Linked DNA regions of Homo sapiens: regions 2, 3, 4, 5, 6 and 7 are each linked to region 1. The links come from fine-mapping of genetic effects on gene expression. A gene starts in region 1. Each other region holds a variant in brackets. All regions are shown on one strand. Distances are between the middles of the regions. Region 1 holds the start of NCOA4 (nuclear receptor coactivator 4). Region 2 has its middle 57 kb from the start of OR13A1. Region 3 has its middle 34 kb from the start of TIMM23. Region 4 overlaps ZFAND4 (zinc finger AN1-type containing 4). Region 5 has its middle 36 kb from the start of MARCHF8. Region 6 has its middle 14 kb from the start of AGAP4. Region 7 has its middle 39 kb from the start of MSMB.

Evidence for each region. PIP is the estimated chance that this variant, and not a neighbour inherited with it, causes the effect. A credible set is the group of variants that fine-mapping cannot tell apart.
Region 2: its variant is the best candidate, but not a certain one, in a credible set for the expression of NCOA4 in whole blood (INTERVAL, PIP 0.65).
Region 3: its variant is the best candidate, but not a certain one, in a credible set for the expression of NCOA4 in T cells (TOPMed, PIP 0.58).
Region 4: its variant is the best candidate, but not a certain one, in a credible set for the expression of NCOA4 in whole blood (INTERVAL, PIP 0.72).
Region 5: its variant is the best candidate, but not a certain one, in a credible set for the expression of NCOA4 in whole blood (INTERVAL, PIP 0.55).
Region 6: its variant is the best candidate, but not a certain one, in a credible set for the expression of NCOA4 in whole blood (INTERVAL, PIP 0.73).
Region 7: its variant is the best candidate, but not a certain one, in a credible set for the expression of NCOA4 in blood mononuclear cells (TOPMed, PIP 0.84).

Annotation. Positions count from the first base shown.
Region 1 is chr10:46,028,957-46,033,024 of GRCh38, reverse strand. NCOA4 (nuclear receptor coactivator 4) reads left to right here and starts at 2,402. Exons shown (of 10, transcript NM_001145263.2): 1 at 2,402-2,499. It overlaps LOC105378287 (a long non-coding RNA gene), which reads right to left and starts at 2,250. Exons shown (of 3, transcript XR_945923.4): 1 at 2,158-2,250; 2 at 241-436. RefSeq lists an enhancer at 2,357-2,426 and a silencer at 2,787-2,876.
Region 2 is chr10:45,256,718-45,260,785 of GRCh38, reverse strand. It overlaps the pseudogene OR6D1P. Among named protein-coding and RNA genes, the nearest start is that of OR13A1, 57 kb to the left of the region's middle. The variant GAGGGAC/C (reference allele first, on the strand shown) is at 1,509.
Region 3 is chr10:45,936,937-45,941,004 of GRCh38, reverse strand. It overlaps the pseudogene PARGP1-AGAP4, the pseudogene PARGP1 and the pseudogene RPL35AP23. Among named protein-coding and RNA genes, the nearest start is that of TIMM23, 34 kb to the left of the region's middle. The variant T/C (reference allele first, on the strand shown) is at 1,754.
Region 4 is chr10:45,664,193-45,668,260 of GRCh38, reverse strand. The region is part of intron 1 of ZFAND4 (zinc finger AN1-type containing 4); the gene reads left to right. Among named protein-coding and RNA genes, the nearest start is that of ZFAND4, 6.5 kb to the left of the region's middle. The variant G/A (reference allele first, on the strand shown) is at 1,704.
Region 5 is chr10:45,569,663-45,573,730 of GRCh38, reverse strand. It overlaps a transcript of MARCHF8 not described here. Among named protein-coding and RNA genes, the nearest start is that of MARCHF8, 36 kb to the right of the region's middle. The variant GAGAA/A (reference allele first, on the strand shown) is at 1,613.
Region 6 is chr10:45,859,394-45,863,461 of GRCh38, reverse strand. It overlaps the pseudogene PARGP1-AGAP4 and the pseudogene PARGP1. Among named protein-coding and RNA genes, the nearest start is that of AGAP4, 14 kb to the right of the region's middle. The variant G/A (reference allele first, on the strand shown) is at 1,733.
Region 7 is chr10:46,083,454-46,087,521 of GRCh38, reverse strand. No RefSeq gene overlaps it. Among named protein-coding and RNA genes, the nearest start is that of MSMB, 39 kb to the right of the region's middle. The variant A/G (reference allele first, on the strand shown) is at 2,182.

The DNA.
Region 1 (4,068 bases):
GCAGGAGAATCACTTGAACCCGGGAGGCGGAGGTTGCAGTGAGCCAAGATCACATCAGTGCACTCCAGCCTGGGTGACAGAGTGAGACTCCGTCTCAAAAAACAAGCAAACAAACAAACAAACCCAAACCCAAACAAAACAAAACAAAACAAAATACATATGAATAAAAGTTCTATTTTTCCTAAACTCTATAATAGGTCATTGTGCATCCCTTACTCAGGGGACCACTGCCACTCTTACTGTTTCTGATGTCTGCACTCTGCTGCCCGTGTCCTGCTGTCTGGTGAACGATGAAAAAAATGTGTGTCTTCAAGCTGGAATTAGATCCCTTCTTTTCTTTACGGTGTTCCTGTTTATCCCTCCTTCCTCTTCATCAGGAAGTGTCTTCTATGATGTGTCCCCCACATTCCTCTGTGTTTGCTTGAGGTCAAAGCAGCTTAGAACAAGAAACAGCTTAGAACAAGCCTGTAAAACAGCTTAGAACAAGCCTGAAGAAAGTGCCCCCAAGACCACATGCAGCCCGAGGGGAATTAAAGGCCAGGGGCTCTGCCTTGCAGATGGAGAGTGGCCTGGGTGCAAGGCCCCAGCATCAGCTACCTCTTGCTACACACAGACCACCGAAAACTTAGTGGCTTAAGACAACGACAACATTGATTCTCTTTTAACTGTTTCTGTGTTAAAGAACATCTGTTCACTCAACAGGTCTGTACTGAGCACCTGGGCCAGGCAGTGCTCTAGACCTGGGGATACAGCAGTGAACCAGAGAGATTTCAGGAGAGAACCCTGTTCTCCTGGGGCTTGGACTCAGCTGTGTGTACGTGACAGATCAGAAATGAGCAAACAGTCATCTGTTGAACAATCAGTGGGCAACTGATAAAGAGCTTTATTTTCCCCTGTCCCCTATCTGTTTAAACATGCTATGTGGGCCAGTTGAGCAATCTAGACAGGTCCCTTAGCTTTCTTGTTCACCTTCAGATAATTTAAAAAAGTGGTCTGAGTTACATTTTGAGTTACACAAAGTCTCATTCCAGGGGCTGCATCTGAATTGAGAGGGAATGGGGGACAGGAGAGTTAAGGGCTCCTTCTGCCTGAGGTCATGTTCTAGGCTGACTTCCTCATGGGACTTTTGTGGGCTTCTCTCTCCACAGCTCCCCTTCCACTCACAGCCTATGACTGTTATCTTAGCTTCTGCATCGTAATCTATGTCTCCTATTGTTTTCTAATGAGGTTGCCTTGCCCCTTGTAGCAGAGTCACTCTTGGATGAGATCCATAAAACCCTGCTATGATCACCTCCTTTGCTGCGGAATGTGGGGAAGCAGTTGGCAACTGAGTATGGAGGACCTCTGTCAAAACTGAGACAGAAAGAAGTGCTATTTAACATCTAGTCACAAGTAAATAATGTGGGTTATAATCTGGGCTGTAGGCTGGACGTGGTGGCTCATGCTTGTAATCCTAGATCAGGTGGGAGGATCGCTTGTGCCCAGGACTTTGAGACCAGTCTGGGTAACACAGCAAGACCCTGTCTCTACAAAAAAATTTAAAAACCGGGCATCATGGCGCATGTCTGTAATCCCAGCTACTCAGCAGGTTGAGGCAGGAGAATCGCTTGAACACAGGAGGCAGAGGTTACAGCAAGCCGAGATTGCGCCACTGCGCCTGAGCGACAGAGTCAGACCCTGTCTCAAAGAAAAAAGAAAAGAAAAAAAGAATCTGGGTTCTGCCATTTATTTATTTACTCAATTTTTTTTTTTTTTTTTTTTGAGACGGAGTCTTGCTCTGTCGCCCGGGCTGGAGTGCAGTGGAGCGATCTCGGCTCACTGCAACCTCTGCCTCCCAGGTTCAGGCAGTTCTGCCTCAGCCTCCCGAATAGCTGAGGCTATACGCGCGAGCCACCACGCCTGGCTAATTTTTTTGTATTTTTAGTAGAGAAGGAGTTTCACCGTGTTAGCCAGGATGCTCTCCATCTTCCGACCTCGTGATTCGCCCGCCTCGGCCCCCAACGTGCTGGGATTACAGGCGTGAGCCACTGCTCCCGGCCTATTAACTCAATCCTTAGAAAAACAAATGTGGCAAAGGTGGAATCATACAACATATGGCCTTTTGTGTCTTACGATATTCATTTTTGCATCTGAATGTTCAAACTAAATAATATCTACCTTGTGAGGCCATCTGAATCACTTAGGATGGTCCTTGGCACCAAATTTGCCTTCAAAAAAGCATTTGCTTCATTTAATTTCGATTTATTCACGAAGGACTAAAGGACACTGCAAGGGCGGGGAGGGAGTGTGCGCCTGCGCTCTGCGCCTCCTAGAGGGCAGTCAAGGGCTTCTGGCTGACCCGAGCGGAGATCTCGCGAGACTGTCAGACGTATGGCGAGAGGTGTGGGAGGAAGATTGTGTTGTCGCGAGAACTCTGCCTTTGGGCCGTAGGTTAGTGTGGGGCCGTGTCTCAGTCCACCCAAGGTCTCCTCGGATCGCCTGGAGAGGCACTCGGACCTGGTAAGAACGCTGTGGGCCGGGTGGAGGCTCGATGACCGCTGGCCCGCTGGGCCCGGGCTTGTCCGCCCCTTCCCGACCCGACCGACACCGGGACCGGTCTGCCTTCTCCTTCCCTTCCCTCCCCTCCACACGCCAGGCCCGGGCACCTCTTCCTGCCTGCCCGCCGGGCCCGGGCCTGTCTTCTCCCCTTCCGGCCACACGCCGGGCCCGGGCCTACGTTCTCGCCTTCCCGCCACACGCCGGGCCCGGGCTTGTCTTTTCCTCCCCGACCCTCCTCGTGCCCGGCCGTGGGCCTGTCCTTTCCTCCCCGACCCTCCTCACACCCGGCTCGGACACCTCCTGCTCCCCGCCGGCCTTCCCCTCTCTTTAGGTGTGACAGCTCCAAGTTTCCTGTTTCTCTCGCCTCTTGCTTGGATGTGGGGCGAGGCGAGGTCTGTTTTGCCGGACGGGCACAGAACATAATCCATTTCTAGCTTGTCAGGTGGAAATGCAAAGAAGATATTGGGTTTTTTTGGCCCTCTGTGTGCCAAACACATACTGTCACATTTAATTCTCCCAATAATCCCGAAAAGTAGCTTGATTATCTCTGTTTTACAGCTGAGAAGAGTAAGGCTTGCTCATTCATTGGTTCATTCCACCAGCAATCATTTATTTGGTGCCTGTATGTTCAGGATGTTGAGGATAGCAATGAAAAAAATGGACACCTAATTCTCATGGAACTAAATTCTTGTTGTGGGGAAAACAATAATCATAATCTTACGTGGCACGGGATTTAACATGGAATGATGCCATCAAGAATGGCAGAAGTAGAATGACAGAAGTCAGAGTGCTGAATTTATCTGACCCCAAAGGCAGAGCTTTTTTACTTTTAACTGTGCCTTTTTGTGTCACTTTCTAATCAGGGTCGGGTTCACCACAGTAATTGCCTTTTGGATGGACTTAGCTTTCCACCACGCACTTGGTAATTTGGAACTAAGTTTATAGAGACTCTTGAGTTACTTATTGGAATGAGGATGGCACAGGAAGTCATAGTTGGCCCATTTTTATACCGAGATCCTAGTGTGACATTTCCAAACTTTAAAGTACTTGAGACCGTTTGAGAAAGACTTACCCTAAGGATGCAGTGGCTTAGGCAATTTACTTGGTTTTCTCATTTGAAGATTTGCTAGCTTGCAGATTTGTTCAGATAAGTAAATGAGATTATGTATGTAAAGTCCAGCACAATAACGTTCCTTTCATTTTCTCCTTTCCTGCCTTCCAGGGAGCCTTTGTCCTTGGGTCTCTAAGGAAAATCCTACTCTTTGAAAGTTTTGTGGTAGTTTTTATCTAAATAAATCTCTACAATTACATTATTACCTTTGTGCAAACAGGCATTTCGGAAATGGAAAAACATGTTGAGCTATGGAAGGGGAGGAAGATGTCCTTCTCAAAGGGAGAGAAGATATTTTAGAACTACATAGTACCCCTCACCCCCCCCTTTTTTTTTTTTTTATTAAATCAGTATAGCTGTGCCAGAATCTCAGGATCCGGTGTAGGGGTTTCATAAAACTCCATAGGATATCCTGACAC
Region 2 (4,068 bases), 770 kb after region 1:
ATCTGTTTAACAAAGCACATCTTGCGCCGCCCTTAATCCATTTAACCCTGAGTGGACACAGCACATGTTTCAGAGAGCACAGGGCTGGGGATAAGGTCATAGATCAACAGGATCCCAAGGCAGAAGAATTTTTCTTAGTACAGAACAAAATGAAAAGTCTCCCATGTCTACTTCTTTCTACACAGACACAGCAACCATCTGATTTCTCAATCTTTCCCCCACCTTTCCCCCTTTTCTATTCCACAAAACCGCCATTGTCATCATGGCCCGTTCTCAATGAGCTGTTGGGTACACCTCCCAGACGGGGTGGTGGCCGGGCAGAGGGGCTCCTCACTTCCCAGTAGGGGCGGCCGGGCAGAGGCGCCCCTCACCTCCCGGACGGGGCGGCTGGCCGGGCAGGGGGCTGACTCCCCACCTCCCTCCCGGACGGGGCGTCTCGCCTGGTGGGGGGCTGACCCCCCGACCTCCCTCACGGATGGGGCGGCTGGCTGGGCCGGGGGCTGACCCCCCCACCTCCCTCCCGGACAGGGTGGCTGGCCGGGCAGAGGGGCTCCTCACTTCCCAGTAGGGGCGGCCGGGCAGAGGCGCCCCTCACCTCCCGGACAGGGTGGCTGGCCGGGTGGGGGGCTGACCCCCCACCTCCCTCCCGGACGGGGCGGCTGGCCTGGCGGGGGCTGACCCCCACCTCCCTTCCGGACGGGGTGGCAGCCGGGCGGAGGGGCTCCTCACTTCTCAGATGGGGCGGTTGCCAGGCGGAGGGTCTCCTCACTTCTCAGACTGGGCGGCTGGGCAGAGACGCTCCTCACCTCCCAGACGGGGTCTCGGCCGGGCCGAGGCGCTCCTCTCATCCCAGACAGGGCGGCGGGGCAGAGGTGCTCCCCACATCTCAGACGATGGGCGGCCAGGCAGAGACGCTCCTCACTTCCTAGATGGGATGGTGGCCGGGAAGAGGCGCTCCTCACTTCCTAGGTGGGATGGCGGCCGGGCAGAGAGGCTCCTCACTTTCCAGACTGGGCAGCCAGGCAGAGGGGCTCCTCACATCCCAGACGGGGTAGCGGCCGGGCAGAGGCTGCAATCTCGGCACTTTGGGGGGCCAAGGCAGGCGGCTGGGAGGTGGAGGTTGTAGCCGAGATCACGCCACTGCACTCCAGCCTGGGCACCATTGAGCCCTGAGTTAACGAGACTCCGTCTGCAATCCCAGCACCTCGGGAGGCCGAGGCTGGTGGATCACTCGCGGTTAGGAGCTGGAGACCAGCCCGGCCAACACAGCGAAACCCCGTCTCCACCAAAAAAATACGAAAACCTGTCAGGCGTGGCGGCGCGCGCCTGCAATCGCAGGCACTCGGCAGGCTGAGGCAGGAGAATCAGGCAGGGAGGTTGCAGTGAGCCGAGACGGCAGCAGCACAGTCCAGCTTCCGCTCGGCATGAGAGGGAGACCGTGGAAAGAGAGGGAGAGGGAGACCGTGGAAAGAGAGGGAGAGGGAGAGGGAGAGGGAGAGGGAGAGGGA[GAGGGAC/C]AATTAGCCCTTATTCTAAGAAAAAACAAACAGAACCTAAAAAAAACATATTTGCAAATTTTTTATAAAGGATTCCAGAAACAGGAGAAAGATTGGATTAGATCAAGGAGAAGGTGCATTCCTTCACTGGGAGGTTGTGATTCTGTTTTTACAATTTCATTCTGGACTGAGCATCCCTCAGAGCCTGGTGGACCTGCTTGTTCCGCAGAGTGTAAATGATCGGGTTCAGCAGTGGGGTCACCACTGTGTTCACAAGAGCAGCCTTTCTGTTGGAGTCCAGCCTGTCCATTTGCTTCGGCTTCACATATATGAAGACACAGCTGCCATACACCAGAGAGAGGACAATGAGGTGAGAGGAGCAGGTGGAGAAAGCTTTCTGCCGCTCCTTGGCTGATGGGAGTCGTACAATTGTGACTACTATGTTGCCATATGCAATGATGGTTATAATGAGGGATGTAAAAAGAACGAATGAAACAAGGACAAAGGCCAACGTTTCAGTAGATCTGGTGTCAGAACAGGAGAGTTGGATCAGAGGGCCGAGGTCACGGAAGAAGTGAGGGATGACATGGGGTCCACAGAAAGATAACTGGGAAACCTTCACCATGAGACCAGTGATGAGAGTGAAGCCCACGACAAAGCAGGCAGTGACCAGGTGGAAGCTAGTCCTCAGGCTCATGATGGTGGAGTAATGCAGAGGCTTGCAAATGGCCAGGTATCAATCCAAGGACATCACAGCCATAAGGAAGAAAACTGTTGACCCAAGAAATAAAAATGAAAAGGACTGCATGAGACAAGTAGTAAAGGGGATTATTTGCCTGCCTGAAAGAAAGATGACCAGAAGTTTAGGAATAACTGTGGTGATAAAACAGCATTCACAGAAGGAAAAACTGCTGAGGAAGAAATACATAGGTGTCTGGAGGTGATGGTCAGCCCAGGTGATGGTGATTATGAGCATGTTTGCCATGATGGAGGCCAGGTATGCCAGCAGGTGCACCAGGAAAAGGACATTCCCCAGATGCTGGACAGCAGGAAATCCCTCCAGGATAAATTCCTGGACTACTGTCCTGTTCCTTGCTTCTCCCATCATTGGTTTTCCATTTCTTCAATCAATTTTCAGTGAGCTATTTTACAGTGTCATGATTAAAGAATGGAGAACTTTATTTTATTAAACATGTAAAACAGTATCCGTGTGGCAATTGGACTTGTTTATTTTCAAACATTATATTTTATGTAATTTTTGTTATGTAAACATTATGATTTTTATCTATGAATATACTTATATTACATGCAGCCCAAAATAACTGTGCATGTAGCTATTAGTCTTCATAAAGGATAATGTAATTTTAAAAGTATTAGTCATTTTCCTATACAGTTTATTGCCAAGCAGGAAAAAAATCCCTTCTTTTACTTACGTATCTGATCATGTAACACATTGCTGAGAAGATACCACTCATGACATGCAGTCACAAGATGAATATTGCAAAAATAAATGTGTAACTTAAAAAAAACTTGAGGTCATTTAAGTCTGTCATCCCACAAAAAGTATTTCTTCATCATGTCTTAGGGTTTGTTTCCATCTTGGGGGAATCATAATACCATATATAGGAAAAATACTGTGGCCCCAACTGCAGCCCTCCGAAGTGAGTTAGACTAAAAGAGTCACAGACAAACTCCATCTGGGCCATTCTGACCTTTGCTGAATTTGTTTTTCCCTTCATGCCATGCTAAGTGGTCAGTCCAGGGAGGAATATATTCTGACCCTTCCAGTTCACTAGTTACACTTTCATCTAGAACAAAGCCACCTAGAAACCAATGTCCCTCTAGGATCCCTGGTGGCTGCTAATTGGGCCTGTTGGAAATACAAATTTATTACACAAGCATCATAGTTACACTTTAATTATGTGTGCAAATATATTTAAGGAATGACAACCAAAATATAAAAAGAAGGGTTATGGCTGGGCACGGTGGCTCATGCCTGTAATCCCAGCACTTTGGGAGGCCAAGCAGGCAGATCACGAGGTCAGAAGTTCAAGACCAGCCTGACCAACATGGTGAAACCCCGTCTCTACTAGAAACACAAAAATTAGCTGGGCATGGTGGCACATGCCTGTAATCCCAGCTACTCAGCAGGCTGAGGCAGGAGAATCACTTGAACCCAGGAGGTGGAAGTTGCAGTGAGGTGAGACTGTGCCACTGTACTCCAGCCTGAGCAACTGAGCAACAGAGTGAGACTCCGTCTCAAAAAAAAAAAAAAAAAAAAAAAAAAGAAGGGTTGTATGACTTGACCACAGCAATTATTTTCTGATTCCTGCTCCTTGCTGTTGTCCACCTAAGTAGAATAAATATTATTTTTCATGTGTTTAACATTGGACTGTCTCTTGACACCAGTCAGGATCCACCAGGACCAACGGGCAGACTCCAGACACGCCAGACATCATTAGGAGATGAACAAAGCCATCTAGAGACCAATGTCCCTCTAGGATCCCTGGTGGCTGCTAATTGGGCACTGTTGGAAATAGAAATTTATTATACAAGTATCATAGCTACCCTTTCA
Region 3 (4,068 bases), 92 kb after region 1:
CATCATATTGAGTTTTGAATGATGCAAATTAAGTTGATCATGTTATTACATCTGTCTTTTTCTTCAGAACTGTTTCTGTCATTTAAATTTTTTTTTTACTTTTTTTTCCAAGAGCACAAATCCACTTTTATTTATTTACTTTTCATTAATTTAAATGCTTGAGGGGTACAGCATCACACAGATTCTGTGTCCAGTGGCCTTAGCAGGAAGATTGCTTCAGAATTTGGCGTGAACCATGCCACTATTTCCCTGGGACCGAGTTACCTTTCCCTAGATTACTCTGATTTTGTTTGGTTTGCCACCAGGAGTCACTTTGTTGTTCTTTGTTTTGTATATATAAGCACATCTTATGCCCGAATAGAATTCTGTTTCATTTTGGGCATAAGCACCTTCTATTTTAAAAAGAGCTGTGTGCTGTCTTTGGTTCTGGAGACCCCACTTATACTCAGCAAAAATGGCCTTGGACCACAGCCTTCCAGACATACTTCCTTTTAGTATTCCTGTTCCCAGCAGGCCTCCACAGGCTCCAAGTTGGCAGAAAGAGAAAGGCCATTTAAAATTTTAAAAACAGGTACAACATAATTCATTGTCTCCAAAATTGAGGCATGTATTATTATAGCTGTGTTTAGCTAAAATAACAGTTTTTGAACTTGTGATTATGGAAAACTTTAAAAATGATAATGTATTGACAGAGCATCAGTAGAAACTCAGAAAAAAGAACATAAACTTGTATTAAAATAGATTACAAAAAGTTATTTCACATACACAAAGTAATGGCTGGAAGAAATTAAGTTTTGATTTATGCCTTTATTATATAATAAAAAGTTAAAATATATGTTGAAATTATTAGGCAAAAATCACAGCACAAATCAGCTATGATTCAATAACGTAAAACACAATAGTTGTATGTTTATGCATCACTTGAGCATCAATGCATTCAAGCATATGTGGTATACTGTGGACATCCTGGCTTTCTGAGGTGTGGCATGCTATTATGAGTAGCTTATCTCATGGTAATTTTAACTGTATCAAATATACTCAGTATTTTTGTGTATTAAAAATTTTAGAACAAAAATATTGTTAGAGGATTTTTCTTTCTTCTCTCTTCATTCCTCCTATCCCCACCCCTTTATCCCCAGACTGTCTATAAACATTTCATGTAGGGTTAGTGCTTTTTAGAATAGTTTGGGAAAAGCTGACCTAAGGCGGTAAATTGTTATAACTACCTTTTTAAATCACAACAGATTTCGTTATTCAGTAACTGAAGGAATGTGGCCTCCTTCCATGATAGCCTTTTGGTGGTCATTTTTTGTTTTGTTTTGGTTTGGTTTTTTGATAACACTGAAGTAAGTTTCTGAATGTATATAAACACATTATTACTTAGCTTGATTTAACATTCTTCGTAGATAATCTGTTTTCTGGGATTTTCTTCAAAGCTTAAAAAATATCAAGTGTCTTTGTTATATTTGTCACAAAGAGCCTGTACCAAACTCCTAATCAAATGAAAGCAGCCTTGAATGTTTCATAAGACTAAAGCTAATGTCTTTATCTCTCTAGCTTTCGAACCTCTGATTTGGAGTTCAGTGGAAATTTAACCTTTTTGGACCTCTTCCCTTGGTGACTCACAGTCTCTGGAATCATAAGGTCTGCATTACTTTACAGCTCAATTTAATTCATGAGAACTATAGGAGCCAAAAGGGAGCTAATCAGAATCACTAAAATATTGAAACAGATCAATTGTGACTTTTAGATT[T/C]GTATGGAATATGTGGAATTTCTCTCCCTGGTTTGGTTAATGAGTGCTTTTGAATGGGGACATATGTTGAGGGTCTCATATTTATGATTTATGATTTCTAAATAGTGCATATCCCAAAGGACAGATTACTCCAATTGGAACTAGGCACTTTGCTTTTATAAACTTGATGAGTTACCATGGAATATCAGTCTTAGTTGAGCCCTCTATGCACTAGATCACTGATGAAGTTGGAGTTGTTATTTTGTGTTTGCAAAACACTATCTGGATTGTATTTATTTATGTGGTGGACAAAGAGGTTAGAAGTTATAGATACTCAAAAGTGAAAATTCATTCAGTAGACTTTCTCTTATATTCTAATAATGAAATTAAGCTAGTACTTAGTTTGTCCTATAACTCTAACCCTTCATTTGTGTCAAATAGCAGTAGAAGTTATTCTTTTTAAATGTTGCTGTGGTGTTGATTTCATTATCCAAAAATCTACTGTTAGAGGAGTGAAAATAATTCTGTGTTTTAATCTTGCCCATGATTTATATCTCTATCAGCTAGCTCTGAAGTGTTTTGGGTTTTGTTTTGTTTTGTTTGTATTTTATTAACACAGTTAAACATGATGCCTTGATTTATAATTCCTGTTAATTTGCATTTATTCTTCTTATGTTCCTACTCATAAAAATAAATTCTGTAGTCCTTTTGAGTATGCTTTGAACACTTATCTACATGTAACATTGCATATTTAACCCTGGAAGGACTATTGTAGTATTTTTATCTGAAGGTAAAAATAATGAGTAAATAAAAACAGAACGTTAGATCTGTTTTTCAAATTTATATATTGTTTCAGTGTGTAGCCTATCTAAACAAGCGGTAAACTTGCTCATCAAAGACTAAATAGGTCCATTGGTCCTTTTATATGAGGGGGTGCTGTTAGTGCTGTGGTTTACCAAAGACTAAGCCAATGGTGTTTCTCCTTATTTTACTATTAGTACTAGTAGAGAAAAATACTCATCCTCGATTTATTGTGATGATAATGACAGGTAATGATTTACTACAAGAGTCTGTCAGATTCTAAGCAGGCTAAATAATTTTTCTTTATAGTGTGTTAACAAAGTTTTTAGTACGCTGAGTGACATAGTGCCTTGTCACCACAAATGCTCTTTGATTACATGAAAAGTGTTACAAAAAGACATTTTCTGCAGCAAGGGCCATTTCCAGCATAATGAAATATGGAATATTTTCAAATGAACTCCAAAGTGATATGTATTGAGGTCTTGCTCTTGGTCTAATCTGCCTCAGTCCTGAGAAGCCTAGCTCTAAGATAAACAAAGGGCATCTTCCACTGGGAGTGCAATGTTGGAACTGCTCACTGCCTTAAGTAACCATATGCATAGCCTCTTTCCTGATAGTTGGCTCCTGTCTCCCTTTGTAATCCTTTCCTTCTTCCATGCCTGCTGCTTAAGTTGCAGACTATTCCAGCCTCACTTCTCTTGGACACTTCTATCTGTTGCAGGCATAGGCCTGTCTCATCCCAGACTCACCTCTTCTACAAGATCCTCCCTGTACATATCTTCTTTGTGTTTGCTGGATCATCTTATTTGGTTATCTTTGGCGATGGAGGTGGTAGTGCTTATTACTGAGAGTTTTCTATGTACCAACTATAGTGTCAGCAGTATGCTTTATCTGATTTAATTCTAACAACCACCTCATGAGTTAGATGCTATTAATATTTCTGTTTTACAAATGAAGAATGGAAAACCAAGGTTTAGGGAGTTTAAGTAACTGACATCTCATTTTTATCTATGGACTGTGGCACATGCTGTCAGAGTCGGTCTTTGACATAGCACCTAGGAAAGAAGCTGAATCAGATTAAACATACTACCCAAACATTAGGTCAATTGAAAATGGCTAGGGAAAAGGGAAGATTCATCATAAAAACTAATTGAGTAAAACTAGGGAGGCCCAATAAGTTCAAATATTTGAATTCAAGGTAGAAAGAAGAAGAAAACCCTCTAGCAAAAGTCGGCCTTAATGGCCCATAGCCTTAGATCTGGCATCATTTAGAACCACATGGCTGGGCATGTGGCTCACGCCTGTAATCCCAATACTTTGGGAGGCTGAGGCGGACAGATCACTTGAGGTCAGGAGTTTGAGACCAGCCTGACCAACATGGTGAAACCCTGTTTCTACTGGGAAAAAAAAAAAAAAAAAAGCAGCAGCATCACAGCCTCAGGGAAAGTACCTACCAGCTTCCAACAGTCTTCGTTCCTTTGAATCCTTTGCCATCTGGTTATATTCCCTCTTCCCATTCTTGTTATCTGCCCATC
Region 4 (4,068 bases), 360 kb after region 1:
ACCCTGATACCAAATCCTGACAGACATAATGAAAACTACAGATCATCATCTCTTGTGATTATAGACACAGAAATCCTGAGGAAATATTTTCAGATCAAATCCATCAACATATGTAAAGGATTACATACCAGGTACAAATGGGATTTACCCCAGTAATGCAAGATTGATTTGACACATAAAAAGTAATGTAATATGTGAATAAAAAAGTAAAGAAAACCAAATGATTATTTCAATAGACAATGAAAAAAGCGTTTGATAAAATTGGCACCCCTTCATGATTAAAAAGAAAACCCACCTAAAGCAGGAATAGAAGGGAAGCTCGTCAACCTTATATTGGTAATCTATGAAAACCCCACGGTTAACATTATACCTAAAGACTCAATGGTTTCCTTCTACAATCAAGAATTAGACAAGGATGTCCAGTCTCACCACTTTTATTCAATCTTGTACTGAAGGTTCCAGAGCAGGGCAATTAGGCAAGAAAGGGAAATAAGCCCAGTGCAGTGGCTCAGGCCTGTAATCCCAGCTCTTTGGGAGGCCAGGGTGGGTGGGTCACCTGAGGTCAGCAGTTCGAGACCAGCCTGGCCAACTTGGTAAAACCTTGTCTCTACTAAAAATACAAAAATTTGCCTGGTGTGGTGGCAGGTGCCTGTAATCCCAGCTATTTGGGAAGCTGAGACAGGCGAATCGCTTGAACTCGGGAGGCGGAGGTTACAATAAGCGGAGATCGTGCCATTTCACTTCAGCCCGGGCAACAGAGTGGGACTTTCACCCCCTCCAAAAAAAAAAAAAAAAAAAAAAAGAAAGAAAAGAGCATATAGATTAGAAAGGGAGAAGTAAAACTCTATTTGTAAATGACATGATCTTGTATATAGAGCTTTTATAGAGAGCGTTTAGGAAGATTTAAATAACTAAATGAACGAAATAAACAGTTCAGCACAGTTGCAGTGTACAGGATCAAGATATTAAAATCGGTTGTGTTTCTATAAACCAGCAATGAGCAATCTGTAAATAAGACAGTGATTCCATTTGTAATAGCATTTAAAGGAATAAAATACTTAGGAATAAATTTAATAAAAGAGAACAAAACTTGTGCTTTAAAAATTATAAAACATTGAAATAAATTAGATATAAACTGAAAAATAGTATGTATTTATGGATTAGAAGACTTAGTATTAAGATTGCAGTACTCTCCAAATCTACAGACTTAATACAATCCCTGTCAAAATCCCAGCTGACATTTTTGCAAAATGGGCATACTTAAAATTCATATGGCAATTCAAGGAGTCCAGAATAGCCAACAATCTAAAAAGAACAAATTGGAGGCCTCACACTTCCTGATTTCAGAACTTACTACAAAGCTACATTAATTAAGATGTGGTGGTACTGGCATAGGTAGATCAACAGAATAAAGAGTCTGGAAATAAACCTTCACATTTACAGTAAATTGGTTTTTAACAAGGATCCAAGACAATTCAATTGGGAATGAATGGTAATTCTGACAAATGATACTGGAACAACTGGTTATCCACATGCAAAAGAATAAAGTTAGACTCTACCTCACACCATACACAAAACTAAATTGAAATTGGACAGTACACCTAAACATAAGAGCTAAAACTACAATTTTTAGAAACATATATAAGTCAATCTTTATTACCTTGGGTTAAGCCAAGCTTTTTAAGTATGATAAAAGAAAAATA[G/A]CCAAATTAGAGTTTAACAAAATTAAAAACCTTTGTGTTTCAAAAGATACTATCAAAAGACAACCCACAAAATGAGAGAAAATATTTACCATTCATATATCTGTTAAGTGTTTTTATCTAGAATATGTAATATAAAAACTCATACAACTCAATAAAAAATCCAATTAAAAAATAGACAAAGTATATGAATAGGCATTTCTCCAAAGAATGTATGCAAATGGCCAATAATCACATAAAAAAGATGCACAATATCATTAGTTTTTAAAGAAATGGAAGTCAACCACAGTGAGATACTACTTCACACCCACTAGGATAGCTTTAATCAAAAGGACAGAAACAAGTATTGTCAAGGGTGTGGAGAAATTGGCACCCTCATTCATTGTTGATGGGACTATAAAATGATCCATACCATTTAGAAAACAGTTTGGTAGTTCCACAAATTGCCAAACATAAGAGTTACCACATTATCTAGCAAAGCTACTTCAAAGAGAAAGGAAAACATATGTTTACACAAAAACTTGCAGTTGAATGTTCATCTTAGCACTATATGTAACAGCCCAAAATTGGAAACGACTCAAATGCTCATCAACTGATGGATGGATAAACAACATGAGATATATTGCTACAGGGGACTATTATTCAGCAATAAAAAGGAGTGAAATACTGATATATCCTAGAACATGATGAACTTTGAAAACATTATGCTAAGTGAAAGAAGCCAGTCACAAAAAAATCATATATGATTCTATTTATGTGAAATGTCCAGAATAGACCAATTTGGAGATAGAAAGTAGATTAGTGGTTGCCTAGGGTTGAGTGGGGGACTGGGGGAATTTGGGAGTGTTGGTTACAGGGTATGGGGTTCCTTTTAGAGGTAATGAAAATTTTCTAAAGCAAATGTGGTGATTGTTGCACAACTCTGTGTACATCATAAAAACCAGTGAATTTTAGGCTTTAAATGAGTGAATTTTATGGCATGTGAATTATATTTCAATAAAGCTTTTTTTTTCTTATTTAATGATGGAGTCTTGCTCTGTCACCCAGGTTGGAGTGCAGTGGTGCAATCTTGGCTCACTGCAACCTCTGCCTCCTGGACTCAAGCGGTTCTCCTGCCTCAGCCTCCCGAGTAGCTGGGACTACAGGTGTGCGCCACCATTCCTGGCTAATTTTTGTATTTTTTGGTAGAGATGGGGTTTCGCCATTTTGGCCAGGCTGGTCTCGAACTCCTGACCTCAGGTGATCCGCCCACCTCGGCCTCCCAACGTGCTGGGATTACAGGTGTGAGCCACTGTGCCTGGCCCTCAATAAAGCTATTTTTAAAAAGGTTTAACCACCTCACCAGAAAGATGTGTATCATTTGTCCTAGTTTAAGTTCAAGGCCCCCCTGTATAGAGTTTTCACGATTAATAGCAATAGCAATTTGATCATTTTTGTGCTCCTAGTTCTATACTTGTCATTTAGTTTACTACTTCTATTTGTTGGGCTTACCACTCATACTTATTAGCCATTGTATGTATGTGAGCAGAGATTGTCTAATACTTATTACCAATTCTAATGTCATCTGAATGCTATAATATCCTCTGGAAACCGTTGATGATTTAGTGAGTACTACTTTTTTTTGTTTTTGAGACCAGAGTCTTGCTCTGTTGCCCAGGCTGGGGTGTTGTGGCGCAATCTCGGCTCACCGCAAGCTCTGCCTCCCGGGTTCACGCCATTCTCCTGCCTCAGCCTCCCAAGTAGCTGGGACTACAGGCAGACACCGCCACGCCCAGCTCATTTTTTTCTTGTATTTTTAGTAGAGATTGGGTCTCACCATGTTAGCCAGGATGGTCTCGATCTCCTGACCTCATCATGATCTGCCATCTCGGCCTCCCAAAGTGCTGGGATTACAGGCATGAGCCACAGCCCCCAGCCTAGTGAGTACTATTTTTAAGCAACCTATTATGGTGGTTGGCATTCCTTTTATCCAGTATGATTCAAATATACAACAGGAGTAGGCATGGTGGCTCACGCCTGTAATCCCAGCACTTTGGGAGGCCGAGGCGGGTGGATCACAAGGTGAAGAGATCGAGACCATCCTGGCCAACGTGGTGAAACCCCGTCTCTACTAAAAATACAAAAATCTGCTGGGCATGGTGGTGGGTGCCTGTAATCCCAGCTTCTTGGGAGGCTGAGGCAGGAGAATTGCTTGAACCCGGGAGGCGGAGGTTGCAGTGAGCCGAGATTGTGCCACTGCACTCCAGCCTGGCGACAGAGCGAGACTCTGTCAAAAAAAAAAAAAAAGTCAAATGTACAATCGTTGTAAAGTTATGCTTTATATGGTATAGAAGACATAATTTGTATGTTTTAGAAAAGGATATGAATA
Region 5 (4,068 bases), 460 kb after region 1:
TAAAGCATCTGTGATGGTCCAGGAGGCTTCTGTGGTGATCGGGCAGCATCAGTCTTTAGCCACGAAGCTGAGAAGATCTGGGAAGGAGTCAGTCAGAGAGCCTTGGGCCGGAGTTCCAGGGGCTCTGGGAGTGGCTGCTGGGCGAGTTGGATTTCCAGTGGGGTCCCGCACAGATGGGACAAGGCTTAGGAGGAATCCCGGGCTTCAGGCATTCCTTCGCCCAGTGGCCAGATTTCCGGCACCTGAAGCAAGTTCCTGGGGGAGGAGGTTCTGGAGGAACCCCTGGCAGCTGCAGTTCAGGTGTTTGGAGTTCTTGTGTGCTGGAGATGTGGCTGGGGTTTTTCTCACAGTGGAGGCAAGGAATTGCAACTCAGAAATACATTGCTACTTGGCTGCCTCTACTTTATTATTGTACACCTTGAAGGAGAGGTTAATTAAGTCCTGTTGTGGGGTTTGAGGGCCGGAATTTAATTTTAGGAGTTTTATTTAATGTCAGGAGCTGACTGGGTGTTAAAATGCATAATTAGAATGAGATGGCCTTCTGACCCTTCAGGGTCTAGGGCTGTAAAGAGTCTTAAGGGTTGCTGCTAAATGGGCCATGAACTGGGCTGGGTTTTTCATATTTGATGAAAAAGAGCCTAAACGCTAACTGATTTGGGAGAGGTCCGATAAAGAAAAAGGAGCATTAACCTTTACTATGCCTTTAGCTCCAGCCACCTTTTTAAGAGGAAATTGCTGGGCAGGTGGGGGAGGGCCAGTCGCAGAACGAAACTGTAAGCTGGACCAGGTGTGAGGAGGGGGAGGTGATAAAAGGATTGTAGGGTGGCGGGGCGGAGGCTGAGGAAAAAATGGAAAGACTTGGGACTGTCTTCCCAAGTCCATGACCAGCGCTGGAGTTTTGGGTCCACGGATAAAACACGTTTCCTATGTCTCTACCAGAAAAGCAGCCTGGGGAGGAGGGGAGAGGTCAGATGGGTCAGTAGAAAAGGAAGATTCAAAAGACTCAGAGACGCTTGGGGTTGGGACTGAAGGGACAGGCGGGAGGGAAAGAAGGAAGATTTGGGACGAGTTGCATTGGGGAACAGAGACTAGGGATGGACCGATGTGTAAAAGAATGCCTGGACGTCAGGCACCTCAGACCGTTTGCCTATTTTACAACAAGAATTATTTAGGTCTTATAGGATGGAGAAATCGAAAATGCCGTTTTCTGGCCATTTAGAGCCGTTATCGAGTTTGTATTGGGGTTAAGTGGCATTGCAGAAGAAAATATTGCAGAAGAAAATAAGGCATTTAGGTTTTAGGTCAGGTGTGAGTTGAAGAGGTTTTAAGTTCTTGAGAACACAGGCTAAGGGAGAAGAAGGAGGAATGGAGGGTGGAAGGTTGCCTATAGTGAAGGAGGCAAGTCCAGAGAAAAGAGAGGGTAGAGACATGGAGAAAAGGGGTGGGGGTGCTTGCCCCCCAGGAAAGTGGAGAGAAAAGAGAGGGTAGAGACACAGAGAAGGGGTGAGGGGGTGCTTGCCCCCCAGGAAAGTGGAGAAGGGGTGGGGACACAGAGAGAAGGGGTAAGGGGTGCTTGCCCCCCAGGAAAGTGGAGAAGGGGTGGGGACACAGA[GAGAA/A]GGGGTAAGGGGTGCTTGCCCCCCAGGAAAGTGGAGAAGGGGTGGGTGAGCAGCCAAAGCAGGTGTCCCTGCAATTGACTTGCCACCAAGGGAATGTGGGTGAATGACAAAGGCAGGCGTCCCCGCGGTGATAAGACACCAATGAAATGTGGGTGAATAATCAGGTAGGTGTCCCCGCGTGATTAAACACCAAGGGAAGACTGTCTTCCTGAGTCTATGACTGGTGCTGGAGTTTTGGGTCCACGGATAAAACATGTCTCCTTTGTCTCTACCAGAAAAGGAAAGGAACTGAAATTAAGAGAAGGGAGAGATTGAAGTGTGGCGCGAAGATTGAAAGGAGAAAGAGATTGAGGGATAGTGAGAGAGGTTGGAGAAGAGAGTAAAAAGAGGCCGCTTACCCAATTTAAAATTGGTGAGATGTTGCTTGGGCTGGTTGGTCAGAGGACCAGAGGTCGTAGGTGGACCTTTCTCACAGAGCAAAGAGCAGGAGGACAGGGGATTGATCTCCCAAGGGAGGTCCGCCGATCCGAGTCACGGCACCAAATTTCACTCACGTCTGTGAAGAGACCACCAAACAGGCTTTGTGTGAGCAATAAAGCTTTTTAATCACCTGGGTGCAGGTGGGCTGAGTCCAAAAAGAGAGTCAGCAAAGGGAGAAAGGGTGGGGCCATTTTATAGGATTTGGGTGGGTAAAGGAAAATTACAGTTAAAGGGGGTTGTTCTTTGGTGGGCAGGGGTCGGGGTCACAAGGTGCTCAGTGGGGGAGCTTTTGAGCCAGGATGAGCCAGGAGAAGGAATTTCACAAGGTAATGTCATCAGTTAAGGCAGAAACAGGCTATTTTCACTTCTTTTGTGATTCTTTAGTTACTTCAGGCCATCTTGATGTATAGGTGCAGGTCACAGGGGATATGATAGTTTAGCTTGGGCTCAGAGGCCTGACATTAACTCCTTCAACTTTGTTCTTTTTTAAGATTGTTTTGGCCGTTCTAGGTCTTTTGAATTTTCATATACTTTCATATTTCATATACTTTTATATTTCATAGGCTTTTAGAATCAAAAGCCTAATTTCTATAAAAGTGCCTGGTGGGAATATGGTTGGAATTGTGATTTGGGCAGAATCAACATCTTGACAGTGTTGAAATTTTCGAATTACAAACATGGTATATATCTTCATTTACTTAGGTATTTCTTTCAGCAGTGTTTTGTGGTTTTCAGTATATGGGGCTTCCATATCTTTTGTTAAGTTTATTCTTAAGTAATCTGCTTTTTGGTATTGAGAAACGTTTTTAAAATTTCATTTTGTTGGTGGAATATAGAAATACAATTGTTTATTGACCTGCCATCCTGCAACTTTGCCAAACTTACTTAAATGAATCTTGTTAGATTGACATAATTCTTAAAAATTTGTTTGTTAACAATTATATTGCCTCTGAAAAGAAAGTTTTATAACTTCGTTTCAAATATTTATGCGTAGTATTTCTTTTCCTTGCCTATTACATTGGCTAGGATCTTCTATATAATATAATGTTGAGTAGACTTGCTGCGATTTCTATCACTATCTTTGCCATGTTGCCAATCTTTGAGGGAAAGTCCTCAGAATTTCATTATTTGCTGAAGGTTTATATGATAGAGGAAGTTTCTTTCTGTTTGTAGGTGTGCTAAAATTTTTATTTTTTTTAACCCGGAATGGATATGGAACTTCGTCAAATGCTTTCATTGCATCTGGTATTATAGTAAATGAAATTGCCTTTTATATGTGAATCCAAATTTTATATTCCTGGGATAAATACTGCAGTATCATGATATATTATTCTTTTTGTAAGTTACTGATTTTGATCTTTCCATTGTTTTGCTGAGGATGTTTTCATCTGTGTTAATCACCTATGGTCATGTTTTATAGTTTTTTTATAAATGAAAAATATTTTGGTAATGGGTTTATGCAAACCTTCTAAAATGAATTGGGAATTGTTTACTCCTTTATTTTCTTCCACATGTGTCTGATAGACTTCACCAGTGAAACCATCTGAGTTTTGAGTCTTCTTTTTGTAAAAGGGTAGGCTGAGTATTTTAACTTAATAAATACATGGCTGTTTAGATTTTAAAAGTTTTATCTTGTGTCAGTTGTGGAAAGTGTTGTGCTTTTCACTCTATTATTAGTGCTGTGTGGTTTATCTTTCCATCCTCTTTATTTTAACCCGTGTCTTTATATTCAAAAGGTATCTCTTGTAGACATAATTGGGTCTTGTTTTTTTCTTCTCCCCAATCTGAAAAAAAGCTACATTTTAATTGGAATATTTAGTCTCCTTGATACACAATTGATCCTCATTATTTGAGGATTCCATACATGTGAAAATTGCAAATTTTATTTGTAACCCCTAAATCAATACTTGAAGTGTTCCCGTGGTCATTCATAGACATGTACAGAGTAGCGAAAAATTTGAGTCATCTTCAC
Region 6 (4,068 bases), 170 kb after region 1:
TCCAAGGAAGTATATTTAAATCAAAGCAAGAAATCCCATTTCCAAATGGCAATAAAGCATGTGTTACATAGAATCAGTGCATGAAAGTGTTTTAGTAGCCCAGATTAGATTGTACCCTGGCGAATAAGCAAGAGTTCTTTTTCATTTTCATCTTGCAATTCAACTGGGTATTTGGGTTCTTTTTCTATTCACTCATGTCAGATAGAGACATGCATGTTGTAAATTATTTTGTCAGAATGAAAGCCTGGCAGATTAAATGCTTTCTTCTCTTCTTGCTTTACTTGATATCAATCTCTTGTTCATTTCTTGATAATATGTTTGGTTATTTTTGTTTTCATTGCTTTTAGTGTCAGAGATGGCTTTGGATTCCCCATTCTGTGTGCTGCTGTCTGGCTCCTGAACCCACCTGTAGAGGTGTGTCAATCCCAGCTGGTGAAGTACTGAGAAGAAGCTACACAAAAGGCATCAAAGTATTAGTAAGTGTACCTCTGACATTTTAACCACCTCTGACTTTTCCATGGAATGGACAAGTAGTAGTCTCTGTCAGAGCTACATTTTAAAGGAGAAAAAGAAACGTGAAGTCATGAACTGTTTATTTATGCTGTTATTTTTGTGTTTACTCACCTCATTTATATTGACTTGTAAATTAGTAATTTCTGAACTATTACTTATCAATTCATTGCCTACATGTCAGCAAACAAATTTTCTTCTTAATAAAGAATACAGTTGCTGGGCACAATGGTTCACACCTGTAATCTCAGCACGTTTGGAGGGCAAGGCAGGAGGATTCCTTGGGGCCAGGAGTTCAAGACCAGCCTGGGCAATATAGCAAGATTTCATCTCTACAAAAAAATGAAAACATTGGCTGGGCATAGTGGCTCATTCCTATAGTTCAGGCTACTGAGGAGCCTGATGTAGGAGGATCACGTGACCCCAGTAGTTTGAGGCTGCAGTGAGCTATGATCCTAACACTGCTCTCCAGCCTGGGTGACACACCAAGTTGCCATCTCTTCAAAAAAGGAATCTAGAGACATCAGTGTGTGCACAAGCATGGTTTGTGAATTTGGAAGTGTGTATGTGCGTAGTTTTGCTCAAGAATGTGTTGATGATTATACCTTCTCAGAATGAAGGTAATTTTTTTTCTTTTCTTTTTTTTTTGAGATGGAGTCTTGCTCTGTTGCCAGGCTGGAGTGCAGTGGTGCTCTCAGCTCACTGCAACCTCTGCCTCCCGGGTTCAAGCAGTTCTCCTGCCTCAGCCTCCCAAGTAGCTGGGACTACAGGCACACACCACCACTCCCGGCTAATTTTTTGTGTTTTAGTAGAGACGGGGTTTTACCATGTTGGCCAGGATGGTCTCGATCCCCCGACCTTGTGATCCACCCACCTTGGCCTCCCAAAGTGTTGGGATTACAGGTGTGAGCCACCGTGCCTGGCCTGAAGGTCATTTTTATAAAGATCTCTCCACGTCTTAGATTTGATTCTTCCTTTAAATATTTTTCTCATTGACATTTGAAAGCACCTGACCTTATATAAAATGAACAATTTTCATAACTCCATAAAAGGAGAATTATGGCATCATCTATTTCTTTCTCTTGTCTCATAAATCTAAACCATCAACCTGCTTATTTTTGTATACTGTCACACTGTGTATTCCCTGCATTGAATGCCTGTCTGTTGACATTGTCTGTAAAAATTGTGGGAAGTTTTCTGCACCCTGAAATTTCTGTTATGC[G/A]GATTAAATATCCACTATCCATGTTTTTCCAAGTCTTACAGTAGAAAGGGTAAATGCAGCCCTCACAGCAGCCTGTTGTTCGTCCTGCAAATGTGTTTCCATCACATTACACAAAGCCTCTTTGTCTTCGTGGTTCTACCCTACTAATAAGTTTTTAAAAAAATTATGTAATGTGTGTATATACAAATACCTATATGTATGTGTGTACACATACAGCTGATATCTGCTGAGATTATGTATGCATGAACTATAGAATTAACTTGTAATTTTAAGAAAATAAATTATTTTGTAAAGATAAATCTCATGTTTAAGAAGAGGAATTACAGTTGAATCATTTAGGGATGCCTCAGCCTAAACATAATATGGAAAAAGCCATAACCAAAAGTCATTTTAGAGTACTGCTAGGTTACTCAACCTATCATCACATTTAATTAAAATGTCAGTTTGAACCATGGCCAGTCTATGTTGGTTAATATGTTATTTAAATCAACTTGTGAAGTCTTCATTTTAAATATAGAATTTGTGTTAATGGACTGGAAAATAACATTCTATTGCTTGGAAGATGTGTTAAAGTCTAAAGATTTATGACTTTGTAAAAGAAGAAAACCAGGTGATGATCAGTTGGCATTAGTATATGAGGATGTACTCATATTTGGTAATAGCCATTTTTTTCTAACTAGAGTAAGGGAGTTGGGAATGGGAGGCAGAAGCAAGGACACAGACATGTAAAAAATCATAGAACAAAACTGTATTGAGTTCTGAGTATGGGTCTGTGATCCATGGTTCAGTTTGAGAGGTTCATGTGTCCCTTATGAGAAGGGACAGGAAAGCCAGGAGGAAAGGAGTATGTTTGGGCCTGTGCCTCTGCTTCCGCCACAAAAGTCAGCAGCTCTACCTTTCTCTTTTCTCCTCTTTATCTAATAATTGTCTCCTCTTCAAATTTGGGAAATGAGCTTAATCAAAGATTTGTTGTGTTTTGTTTGTTTGTTTGTTTTTGAAATGTGGCCTCAGTGTGTTTGCCCAGGCTGATCTTAAACTCCTGGGCTCACATGATCCTCCCTCTCAGCCTCCTGAGTAGCTGGGACTACAGGCATGATCCACTACACCCAGCTAAGTTAATGCTAATGTGTAGTTTATCTGCTTCAATTTTGAAGGGTAGGATATATATAGTTATGTGTGTGTGTGTGTGTGTGTGTGTGTGTGTGTGTGTGTGTGTGTGGTGGGGGGGTAGTGTTTGTGTGTGTGTGTGTATATATATATTTATATATTACTAGTCCATTGCTGCTACAACAAACTACCACTATGTCAGGGCATAAAACAAATTTATTACACTCCTGTATGTCAGAGTATGATGTGGATCTCACTGGGCTAAAATCTAGGTGGTGGAAAGGCTACCTTCATCTCTAGAGGCTCTAGGGGATCTTTTTTCTCGCCTTTTCCACATTCTGGAGTCTGCCTGCATTTTTTGGCTTTGGGCTCTTCTCCACTCTCACCATTAGCAACCTTGCATCCCATGGACCCTTCTTCTGTGGCCACATGTCTCTGTGGCTCTTTCCTTCCCCCTTCTCTTCCACTGTTAAGGACTCATGTGCTTACTTAGTCCTGAATGGACACACCGTCATCATCCACATGAGCCCACTGTCCTAATCCATACAGGCTGCTACAAGGAAATGCATTAGACCAGGTAGCTTATAAATAACAGAACTTCGTTTCTCACAGTCCTGGAGGCTGAGAAATGCAAGATCAAGGTGCCGGCAGTCTTGGTGTCTGGTGAAGGCCTGCTTTCTCATAGAGGCTTCCTTCTTGCTGTGTCTTCGCATGGTGAGAGGAACAAACAAGCTCCCTTGTGCCTGTAATAAGGTGCTAATCCCAGTCATGAGGGCAGAGTCTCCCGTAAGGCTTAACCTCCTAATACCATCACCTTGAGGGTTAGGATTTTAACACATGAACATTGACGGAACACAACGTTCATTCCATAGCACCAGGGTAGTCTCCTCATGTCAAGGTCTTTACCTGAATCACATGCATGATGTACCGTTTTCATGTAAGGTTCTAGGAATCTGTGGACATCTTTGGGGGGCCATTATTTTGCCAATCACATATTACATATATTTTAATATCCTAGACTAGTATGAAAACAATGCCACTTCCATTGCTTTATATATGTATATATATATACACATTGTCTAATGCTATAATTAAAAAAAAGTTGTAGACACAAATATACCCATTTAAAAAAAAACCCATTTTTTTCTATTTTACTTCATACTGCCAACTCCTTTTTCCTGAAACTGCTTCAACTCTGGAATTCTTTTTTGCTATTAGTTTTATTTTAT
Region 7 (4,068 bases), 54 kb before region 1:
TCTACTAAAAATAGAAAAATTAGCCAGGCATGGTGGTGCGCGCCTGTAATCCCAGCTACTCAGGAGGCTGAGGCAGGAGAATCACTTGAACCTAGGAGGCGGGGATTGTAGTGAGCCGAGATTGCACCACTGCACTCCAGCCTGGGTGACAGAGCGAGACTCTGTCTCAAAAAAAAAAGAAACTTTTTACAAAGCTACAGTAATCAAAATCATGTGGTGCTAGCCATATAGACCAATGGAATAGAAGAGAAGGCCTAGAAACGAACCCTTCGATATATAGTCAAATGACAAGGGTGTTAAAATCGTTCAATGGGAAAAGAACAGTCTTTTCAACAAATGATGCTGTGGAAACTAAATATCCATATGCAGAAGAATGAAGTTGGACCCTCACTTTACACCAGATACAGAAATTAACTCAGAATGAATCAAATACCTAAATTAAGTCCTAACACTGTAATGCTCTTAGAGGAAAACATAGGGGAAAAGGTTCATGACATTGGATTTGGCAATTATTTCTTCAATATGACACCGAAAGGATAGGCAACAAAAGAGAAAACAGTTACATTGGGCTTCCTCAAAACTGAAAAATTTTGTGCCTCAAAGGACACTATCAACAGAGTGAAAAGGCATCCCACAGAATGAGAGAGAATATTTACAAATCGTGTATTTGATAAGGCATTAATAACCAAAATATATAAAGAACTCCTACAACTAAATTATATAAAAGAAACAACCCAATTAAAAAATGGACAGAGGCCGGGCACAGTGGTTCACGCCTGTAATCCCAGCACTTTTGGAGGCCAAGGCAGGCCATTCACGAGGTCAGGAGATCAAGACCATCTGGCTAACAAGGTGAAACCCCATCTCTACTAAAAATACAAAAATTAGCCGGGCATGGTGGTGGGCGCCTGTAGTCCCAGCTACTCGGGAGGCTGAGGCAGGAGAATGGCATGAACCCGGGAGGCAGAGCTTGCAGTGAGCCGAGATTGCACCACTGCACTCCAGCCTGGGCAACAGAGCGAGACTCCATGTCAAAAAAAAAAAAAAAAAAAGGGCAGAAGGCTGGGTGTGGTGGCTCATACCTGTAACCCCAGCACTTTGGGAGGCCGAGGTGGGCAGATCTCTTGAGGTCGGGAGATTAAGACCAGCCTGACCAACATGGTGAAACTCCGTTTCTACAAAAAATACAAAAAATAGCTGAGTGTGGTGGTGCATTCCTGAAATCCCAGCTACTTGGGAGGCTGAGGCAAGAAAACTACTTGAATCTGGGAGGTGGAGGTTGCAGTGATCCAAGATAATGCCACTGCACTCCAGCCTGGGCAACATAGCAAGACTCCATCTCAAAAAAAAAAAAAAAAAGGCAGAAGACTGGAATAGACATTTCTCCAAAGAAGATACACAGATGGACAATATGCACATGAAAAGATGCTCCATATCACTAATCATTAAGGAAATGCAAATCAAAACCATGTTGAGATACCACTTCACACCCATTAGGATGACTATTATCAAAAATCAAAAATAACTAAACAGAAAGTAACTAGTGTTGATAAGGATGTAGAGAAATTAGAACCCTTGTGCACTATTGGTGAAATGTTAAATGGCACACCGATGTGGAAGACAGTATGGTAGCTCCTCGAAACATTAAACATAGAATTACCATATGATCCCACAATTCTGCTTCTAGGTATCTACCAAAAATAATTGAAAGAAGGGGTCCAGGTGTGGTGGCTCATGCCTGTAATCCCAGCACTTTGGGAGGCCAAGGCGGGTGGATCACCTGAGGTCAAGGAGTTCGAGACCAGCCTGGACAATGTGGTGAAACCCTATCTCTACTAAAAATACAAAATTTTTAGTATGGCATGGTGGTGGGCGCCTGTAATCCCAGCTACTTGGGAGGCTGAGACAGGAGAATTGCTCGAACCTGGAGGGCAGAGGTTGCAGTGAGCCAGATAACGCCACTGCACTCCAGCCTGGACAACAGAGAGAGATTCCATTTCAAAAAAAAAAAAAGCCATAGGAGCTTAGGAGTTTGAGACCAGCTTGGGCAACATAGCAAGACCCCATTTCAACTTTTTAAAACAAAAAAATAAAATTTTAAAAAAATTCTATATCTCCTTCAACTCTTATGACCATTTTGGTTAGGCTGGTCTCGAACTGCTGACCTCAGGTGATCCACCC[A/G]CCTCGGCTTCCCAAAGTGCTGGGATTACAGGCATGAGCCACCGCCCCTGGCCTAAAATGATAAATTTTATGTTATATATATTTGACCAAAATAAAACATTAAAAAAGAAATGTGTGTATGTGTTTTAAACTTTTTCAGCTATTTTAGCAAGGTAGGTTTACATGAAGAGTATGCTATTTGGAAATATTTATTCGTCCATTCATTACTCATTTCACAGTAGGGGAAACATTCCTGTTTCTCCCCCGTGGTGGTGATAAGTGGAAATAGCTTCTTTGAACGTGTGCAGGGTTTCACTGACCTTGGCCCACCCCTGTGACGTGGGGCCTCAGTCAGCGAAGTACCAACTCTCCGGGAGTCTATGGACTCAGCCTGCAGAGCCTGGAGGAGCCACTTCTGGTGGACATGGGGTGCAGAAGGAAACATCAGACTCATCCACCCTGCCCGTCACCTGCAGGTTTTCTAAAGTGTGGAGGAGTGTGAAGCTACAGCAAGGCTGGCCCTTGTAGAGCAGTTTTCATTGTGTGCTCTCTGCATCCCAAAGCCAGACTGGTGCAAGATGCGCGTTATTTATACATGTACTCCCTGGAATTACTCTGAGTCATCACAGGAAAACTCCAAATCCTCACAAAATCCCTTTCAGTTAACTGTACTTCCATGACCTGCTTTTGCCTTTTGCATTAAGGTTTTCATCCATGTGTGCTGGATAGTCTTGGACTGTTTTTTTAGATCCATTCTACTCCTCCCCACCCTGCTCTGTGCCCTGGGAGGACGACTTCTACAGACCACATCACTTAGGTCACCTCTCCCCCTGGCCTCGAGCTGGGTTAGGCTGATGGAGGTAGCAGCAGCTGTTGATGTAGGAGGAGAGAGAGCCTGCGGCCTGGATTTCCCTGGCTCCTTCCCCAACAGGCCATGGTTTTAGCAATAATGGTATGCCTTTACCAAAGCTTTTGTCAGGGGCCCTCCCTCTCCCCTGGCCACAGTTCTCTCCCCAGATTCTGATGATGGGTCCCATCCCTACTGCTCAGGTGAGAATGGCTCCCTGTTACTGCAAGCCTCTGGGAACATCGCCATCCCATAAACATCTACAACTTTGAAAACGGTCCTGGTTCTACATGTTACAGCTCTGCAATCTTTTTTCTAGCAGGACTCTGACTGATACACGAAGAGAAAAAAAAAAAGAGGGCATACCAGTATGGGAAAAGGAAATCACATCTCTTAAATGCCAGATTAGAGTTTTACGTATGTTATTGCATGTAATCCTTGTGACAACCTTGTGATGAAGATTTTATCATCTCTGCTCCCCTGAGAGGGAAACTGAACTTCAAAGAGAGTAAACAATTTCTCCAGATCCTTCAAATAGTGACTAGTGAAGTTGGGATTTAAACCCAGGTCTTCCTGAAAACAAAACCCATGTTCTTTCCCCTATAAGAGCTGAAGGAGATATATATTTTTTTAAAAAATTTATTCTTTTATTTTAAAAAGTTGACATGAGGTCTTGCTATGGTTGCCCAGGCTGGTCTAAAACTCCTAGGCTCAAGCAATCCTCCCGTCTTGGCTTCCCAAATTGCTAAGATTAAGGTGTGAGCCACCATGCCCAGCCAAGCTATGGAAAATTTACTTCTGTCTAGCTGGAAAATTGTTACGCATTACATCAATCAGTATCACGCATTATCAATCAGTATCTGAAAAGTAAAGTTCCACATGCGAAATTTACCTTCGAAATTTTAGATTTTATTTATTTATTTATTTTGAGACGGAGTTTCGCTCTTGTCACCCAGGCTGGAGTGCAATGGCGTGATCTCGGCTCACTGTATCCTCTGCCTCCCAGTTTCAAGCGATTCTTGTGCCTCAGTCTCCCAAATAGCTGGGATTATAGGTGCCCA